Linked DNA regions of Homo sapiens. The protein of the gene in region 1 purifies or fractionates together with the protein of each later gene. This does not show direct contact. Each region holds a gene or a part of one and is shown in the gene's direction. Other genes may lie near its edges. The genes, in order: CNTN1 and ECE1.

Region 1 (3,562 bases):
CCCCTTTCTTTGTCCAGGTTCCTAGAAGTTAGAGAGATTATGCAATATAGAATAAAATAAAAAGAAATATCAGGGGTCACACTGAAGGTCACAGTGGTTTCCTCTAACCATCTTCTTCCTTAGACCCCCTGTGCTCTGTAATAAGAAAAAATTCAGGGCCTACAATGGAGGCATAACTCAATCATTTAACATTATAGGTTGAGTACTTTCTATGCACTAGGCTTGGTATTAGTCAACACAGCTAAAACATAATTTGGATATCATCTCTGTCTTGAAGTTGTTCATAATATAGAGATATTAGCAGTTGTGGTCACAAAATGTGACACCACAAAGAGAAAATTCTAAATGTTATGGCATCGTCAGCAATAGGCAAGCAGTAGAAACAAAGACTGCATCACAGTGTCCAGATTGAAGAATCAGAAAGGAAGTTTGTATTAAAAACCAAGTAGAGCAGTTTTCTACTTATCAGAAAGCCTGCAGTACTGCTCAACTTTTAATTGAAATGTCTGTTTTCAGCATCACTCTCCATATAGCGGGAATTCTCCCTGAAGGAAGTATGAAATCAAAGTTTAGATTTAAAAAAAAATCAAGAATTCCCATGGAAGAGATATAGTACTCCAAATTGGTTTTACATTTCTTCTGATAGAGAAAAATTATTCACAAGATCAATGATTTGTTCAGGTTTAACATTCATCAGCTATGTGAAAAGCAAAATATGTGTTTACTATATAACACATAAGTACCAGAATTATGATTGATAGCAGTATTCTGATATATATGTTGTTAGATTCAAAACCAATATATATTGAAAAACTCCTCAAGAATATATGTCATTTAAAATGACATTAGATAGTACTTCAATTCGGTCTCTAATTTCTGTTTGGAATGTGGGATAGAAGTAAAGATGAAGACCAAAATTACATAAGCTTGAGCCATTAGAGAAATTAAATATAACACACGTAAACATGGAGAGTTTATTTCAAATATCCTGATGTCAAAGCCACAAATTATGAAATTGTATTTGGTTTTCATACTAGTACCAAAACATCAAGATGGCATCCACAATTCACTAAATTTCTTTCGAGCAGCCACAGTTTGTACTTTGCCAACCCACATATTCAGCCAAGTACATAAACATGTCCCCATGATAGATGTAATTTGTGGTCAAAAGACAGAGCATTGTGGAGACCCTGCAGTCATCCTCAGACAAAAAAGGCTTCAGAATGATGATTTCCAATTCCTATCACAAGAACAAAAAACCAAACACCGCATATTCTCACTCATAGGTGGGAATTGAACAATGAGATCACATGGACACAGGAAGGGGAATATCACACTCTGGGGACTGTGGTGGGGTGGGGGAGGGGGGAGGGATAGCATTGGGAGATATACCTAATGCTAGATGACGAGTTAGTGGGTGCAGCGCACCAGCATGGCACATGTATACATATGTAACTAACCTGCACAATGTGCACATGTACCCTAAAACTTAAAGTATAATAAAAAAAAAAAGGCTTCAGGATGGATCATTTACACTGGGTCAAACATTGACGTTTAAAGGTTTTACTGTGTGATTGAGGTTTATTATTGGGCATCTTATCAGAATAAAATAATGTGTGGTCTGTGGCATATTTTAAAAAATTTGTAGAAAAGTAGAAGATAAAAAAAATTACAAGAATACAAAGATCTCTTTGAAACAGTTTATGTGTTAGCTTTTTTCCATATGACATTTATTATTTTCCTTCTGTGCCCTTGCCTTGATACATTAAGTGCAGAGCGCAGTTTCCTTCTGCATTTCTAAAACCAGTCCCTTGCTAAAGCTACCTGCAAGAACACGGCAGAGAGGTCAAAAGTGCATGGCCTTTGCAGCTGGACAAATTTGAATTCTAATCCCTTCTCTGCCCTCTAGTGACTATTGGACTTGAGCAACTCATTTTACCTGACTCAGTTACAAAATATATAAAATTAGGGTAAAAGACCTACCATTGTAGGTTGTTGTAGTCATGTCATAATCTACATAATGAGCCAACATAGTCTTGTAGCTGGCTGTAGGGCAGTAAGTAGCATCTCTCAAAGTAATGATAAGTTTACTATTGTTATTGATAGTGTCCTTAGGAGCTCTGCTACTTGAGGGCTGTTTATATTCCCCTTGTTATCTGCCCTCACCTTTTGACCCTCACTTTCCTGCTCATTTCTAAGAACTACTTTATCTGTATCCGATAAAGCTTTCCCTCTTATGTTTCCAGGCAGCTCCAAAAGCCCCAGGCAGGGCAATGTTGAAGACAAGCAAGCAGACAGACACTATTATCTTCCACCTTATAGGGAACATGAATGTGCTTTTAATGACCAGAGATTCAGGAGAAATGCACTAAATCTCCCTGAATATAAAAGGACCATGCCAAAGAATGAGCTGTTTATGGTCACTTTTAATGTGATAGATAATAATAATTTATTTGGTGGTTTCAAATTTAGAGAGTAAACTTCCAAAAATTAATGAAAACTGTTATATTAGTAAGCCATTGACTAAATTTTTTAGGTCTTCACTCATTCTAGCAGCATGTTCATTGAAGATAGTGCCAGCCAGGCATGGTGGCTTATGCCTGTAATCCCAGCACTTTGGGAGACTGAGGCAGGAGGATCACATGGGCCCAGGAGTTTGAGGCTGCAGTCAGCTATGACTGAACCACTGCACTCCAGCCTGAGCAATAGAACAAGACCCTGTATCTTAAAAAATAATAATTAATTTATTTAAAAAGAAGATAGTGCCTAATAGTTGTGGACATTGGGAAGAAAGAGTATGACTTTTTGGTCCTACTTTACAATAGTTTCTCAAAAATTCTCATGTCGGCAGGACACGGACCCATAAACTTACTTGACTACAGGAGTAGCCCTTCTAAGTGTCACCCAAGACGTAAATTAAGTCCATAGCATATTATAATACATCATTTCAATTTTTAATTCACAGTGTAATATCTCAGGGCAATTGTTCTTTAGATAAAAATTGAATGAGATTATTTAATATCAGAAATACATTACTTAAGTCATTCTGTATAAATGTATAAATGTCTTAAAACCATTGGGATGTGAAATTATGCAAGATTTACCTAGCATACCTATGTTGTCATTGTTTCAGGAAAAATTATTAGTATTTTTACTGTATCTCTTTTTTTACATTTTATTATTATTATACTTTAAGTTTTAGGGTACATGTGCACAATGTGCAGGTTTGTTACATATGTATACAAGTGCCATGTTGGTGTGCTGCACCCATTAACTCGTCATTTAGCATTAGGTATATCTCCTAATGCTATCCCTCCCCACTCCCCCCACCCCACAACTTTATCTTATTTTTAAAACTTACTTTTTTAATGCATGTATATATGTTTCTTGACATTTTGCCTTCTGGTAGGAATTTGGGACTGCTGGATCATAGGGACAGCATACACATTTGTGATCATATTATTTTAAATGATTAATCATGTTGTGTAAACAGTTCACATGGTCTCACACAGAAAATCTTTGATCAAAAGCTTTTGTTTTTCTTAAATCATGTAAGAATAAG
Region 2 (3,824 bases), on another chromosome or scaffold:
CTACCCTCCAAGCTGCTTAGGCCAGTCTCCCATGCTTGACGGGACCTCATTTCCAAAAGAAACGTAAGAAACCAGTCACATCTCCCCATGCTGTGACCTCATCTCACGGATCCCCTCCACAGTCCCATGAAGGAGGCTGGGCAGGTGCGACAGGGATGCAAAGAAGAGACTCAGCCGAGGCCAGCGGCCATTGGAAGCAGATCGGTGCCCTGACTCACGGCCCAGCCCTTTCCATTGCACCCAGGAATTGGCCACCCTGCCCTGGAGAGGCCTCCTGATCCTGGCCTAGTACCTCTAGGTGACTTCTCCTGCCCCAGGGTGAGGCATCTGGATTCGTTCTGCCTTTAGAGACAAGGCTTATCCAGAAACCATGAGGCCCGTAGCCGATAGTACAAGTCAAGCAAAGAACAAGACAAAGGTTAAAAACTCCATTTTCAAACTCCATTTGCCATTCTTGCCTGGAACTATGAATTTTTAATTCAATTCTGGCTTAATTTTAATTTAATTTTGCAGTGAACACCATCTGTTTAGATTCAGCACTTTGCATCAAACAGTGAGGGTCAGCTCCACTTCCTGTGGTAGGTCTGCGGCTGCCAGTCCTGGAGACGTGGGTTGCCTCACTGTTCTCTCTCCTCTCTCCTTGCCTTCATGCCCCGACTTCCTGGGTTTCTTCTGGAGCTAACGCTAATACCTACTCTTAGGAATGTTGTGAAGATAGGCTGGGTGCAGTGGTTCACGCCTGTAATCCCAGCACTTTGGGAAGCTGAGGCGGGCAGATCACCTGAGGTCGGGAGTTTGAGACCAGCCTGGCCAACATGGTGAAACCCTGTCTCTACTAAAAATACAAAAATTAGCCCGGCGTGGTGGCGGACACCTGTAATCCCAGCTACTCGGGACGCTGAGGCAGGAGAATTGCTTGAACTCGGGAGACAGAGGTTGCAGTGAACAGAGACCTCTCCACTGCACTCCAGCCTGGGCGACACAGTGAGACTCTGTCTCAAAAAAAAAAAATTTAAAAAAAATTCAAAAAAAGGAATGTTATGGGCCGGGCGCTGTGGCTCACGCCTATAATTCCAGCATTTTGGGAGGCCAAGGCGGGTGGATCACGAGGTCAGGAGATTGATTGAGACCATCCTGGCTAACACGGTGAAACCCCATCTCTACTAAAAATACAAAAAATTAGCCAGGTGTGGTGGCATGTGCCTGTAGTCCCAGCTACTTGGGAGGCTGAGGCAGGAGAATCTCTTGAACCCGGGAGGCCAAGGTTGCAATGAGCCGAGATGGCGGCACTGCACTCCAGCCTGGGTGAGAAAGCAAGACTCCGTCTCAAAAAAAAAAAAAAAAAAAAAATAATGTTGTGAAGATAGAATTGCACTATCAAAATAGAATTAATATGATCCCAGGCCCTTAGCACTCAAGTATTTATTTGCTGCCATTGTTCTTTTTTCCCTTTCCTATCCCTCTGTTTCTTTCATCTTCCCCTTCTGTTCCTTTCTTCTCTCCCTTCTCTCCGCAGATGGCTTTGCTCCTTGCTCTTAGCTGTCTCCTTGTCGCCCACACCATGACATTTCCCTGTACATTTAAGGTGAGGTTTTCCTGCATCCCAAGCCTAGTGGCTGCATCCTTTGGCTCCCTGGAGCCAGCACCAGGCACAGGGGTACCTCTTTTCTTTTCTTTTCTTTCTTTTTTTTTTTTTTTTCAAGACAGCGTCTCACTCTGTCACCCAGGCTGGAGTGCAGTGGCGTGATCTCTGCTCATTGCAGCCTCCAGCTCCCAGTTTCAAGTGATTCTCTCACCTCAGCCTCCCCAGTAGCTGGGATTACAGGCATGAGCCACCATGCCTGGCTAATTTTTATATTTTTAGTAGAGACAGGGTTTCACCATGTTGGCCAGGCTGGTCTCAAACTCCCAACCTCAGGTGATCCGCCCACCTCACCCTCCCAAGGTGCTGGGATTACAGTCATGAGCCACTGCGCCTGGCCTCTTTTTTACTTTTTTGAGATAGGGTCTTGCTCTGTTGCCCAGGCTGGAGTGCAGGGGCACAATCATGGCTTACTGCAGCCTCGACCTTCCGGGCTCAAGCAATCCTCCCACCTCAGCCTCCCAAGTAGCTGGGACTACAGGTGCATGCCACCATGCCTAGCTAATTTAATTTAATTTTTTTTAAGAGATGGGGTCTGACTGTGTTGCCCAGGCTGGTCTTGAACTCCTGGGCTCAAGCCATCCTCCTGCCTCAGCCTCCCAAAGTGTTGAGATTATAGGCATGAGCCACCATGCCTGGCTGATGGGTACCTCTTAAACCAAGGTCTCATCCAGGTGCAGTCCAGCACTTTGGGAGGCTGAGGCGGGTGGATCACGATGTTAGGAGTTCGAGATCAGCCTGACCAACATGGTGAAACCCTGTCTCTACTAAAAATACAAAAATTAGCCGGGCGTGGTAGCACATGCCTGTAATCTCAGCTACTCAGGAGACTGAGGCAGGAGAATCGCTTGAACCCGGGAGGCAGAGGTTGCAGTGAGCCGAGATCGTGCCATTGCACTCCAGCCTGGGTAACAGAGGGAGACTCCATCTCAAACAAAACAAAACAAAACAAAACAAAACACTGTCTCACGGCCTCCTTGTGCCCTGTGAGCTGAGCCATGATAATGGGGACATGAGAAGCCTAAAGGAGGAAGGATGAAACAAATTAGGGGCAGCAGGACACATACGTCAGTGTCCCTAGGCAAGGCAGTCCCTGCTTCAAGTCCTTGGGACCCCTCTGAGTACCAGAGACCAAGGTAAAGTGTGTGAGATAACTGATTACTCTGAAAAAGCACTTTATAAACATTTGAGTACAGTGTACATGTTAGCATCATACCAGGCTGTCTCTCTCTGCACCAGGCCCTCACAGCCTGAAGTTTTAATTCATGGTCTGAAACTTTCATTGCTCACTTTTTCAGAAGAGATTCTTGAGGGATTTGAGCGGGCGGCATCCCTCCCACTGCCTGACCCAGCTGCTTCAGTGTCTGAGCCTCCTGGGCCTCCACGGAAGTGTCTCTAAGCCCCAAGATCCTTTGCTCAGTTTTGTTTTGTTTTGTTTTGTTTTGTTTTGTTTTCCGAGACGGAGTCTTGCTCTGTCGCCCAGGCTGGAGTGCAGTGGCGCAATCTCAGCTCACTGCAACCTCCGCCTCCCGGGTTCAAGCGATTCTCCTGCCTCAGCCTCCCGAGTAGCTGGGATTACAGGCGCCTGTCACCACTCCTGGCTAATTTTTGTGTTTTTTAGTAGAGATGGGGTTTCTCTATGTTGGCCAGGCTGGTCTTGAACTCCTGACCTCAGGTGATCCTCCCACTTCAGCCTTTTAAACTGTTGGGACTACAGGCATGAGCCGCCGTGCCCGGCCCCTTTTCTCAGTTTTGGAACCCAGTTTTTTTTTTTCCACAGAAAGTGCTTGTGTTCCTCCATCTCTGGTGCAGCAATTCCCAGTCATTTCCTGCCCAGTAAATACCTAACCATGGCCACGTGGCTTCTCAGTACCCTTCCCTCAACTGACCCACTTCAGATCCCCGAGTGCCAGGGTGGGACTCCCTCAGGGCTCTGACCCGGCACCAGGGGCACCCCTCAGGCTGTTGGTGGGGCCGTTGCAGGTCAGAGTCTGAGTCTCCTCATCTTCCCTGACAGCTTCCCCTCTTCCTGGCAAGCCTTGCTCCCTCCACCCTGCCCTTCCCAAAGGGTAAATCTAATCATGTCACTCCAGTCCTCAAGAGGAAGTCCAGGCTCTTAACCTGGCTTTCTGTGCCCCTTAGGATCTAGGCCCTCCTCTCCTCTCCACTTCCATTCCTTCTT

Evidence for each region.
Region 2: the proteins of CNTN1 (region 1) and ECE1 fractionate together in Homo sapiens (co-fractionation; one large-scale study listed by BioGRID). This does not show direct contact.

What each region holds. Positions count from the first base shown.
Region 1 is NC_000012.12:41,066,266-41,069,827, forward strand, and holds part of CNTN1 (contactin-1 isoform 1 precursor), read left to right. Parts: intron 1-3,562. UniProt on the Homo sapiens protein: Contactins mediate cell surface interactions during nervous system development.
Region 2 is NC_000001.11:21,280,464-21,284,287, reverse strand, and holds part of ECE1 (endothelin-converting enzyme 1), read left to right. Parts: intron 1-3,824. UniProt on the Homo sapiens protein: Converts big endothelin-1 to endothelin-1.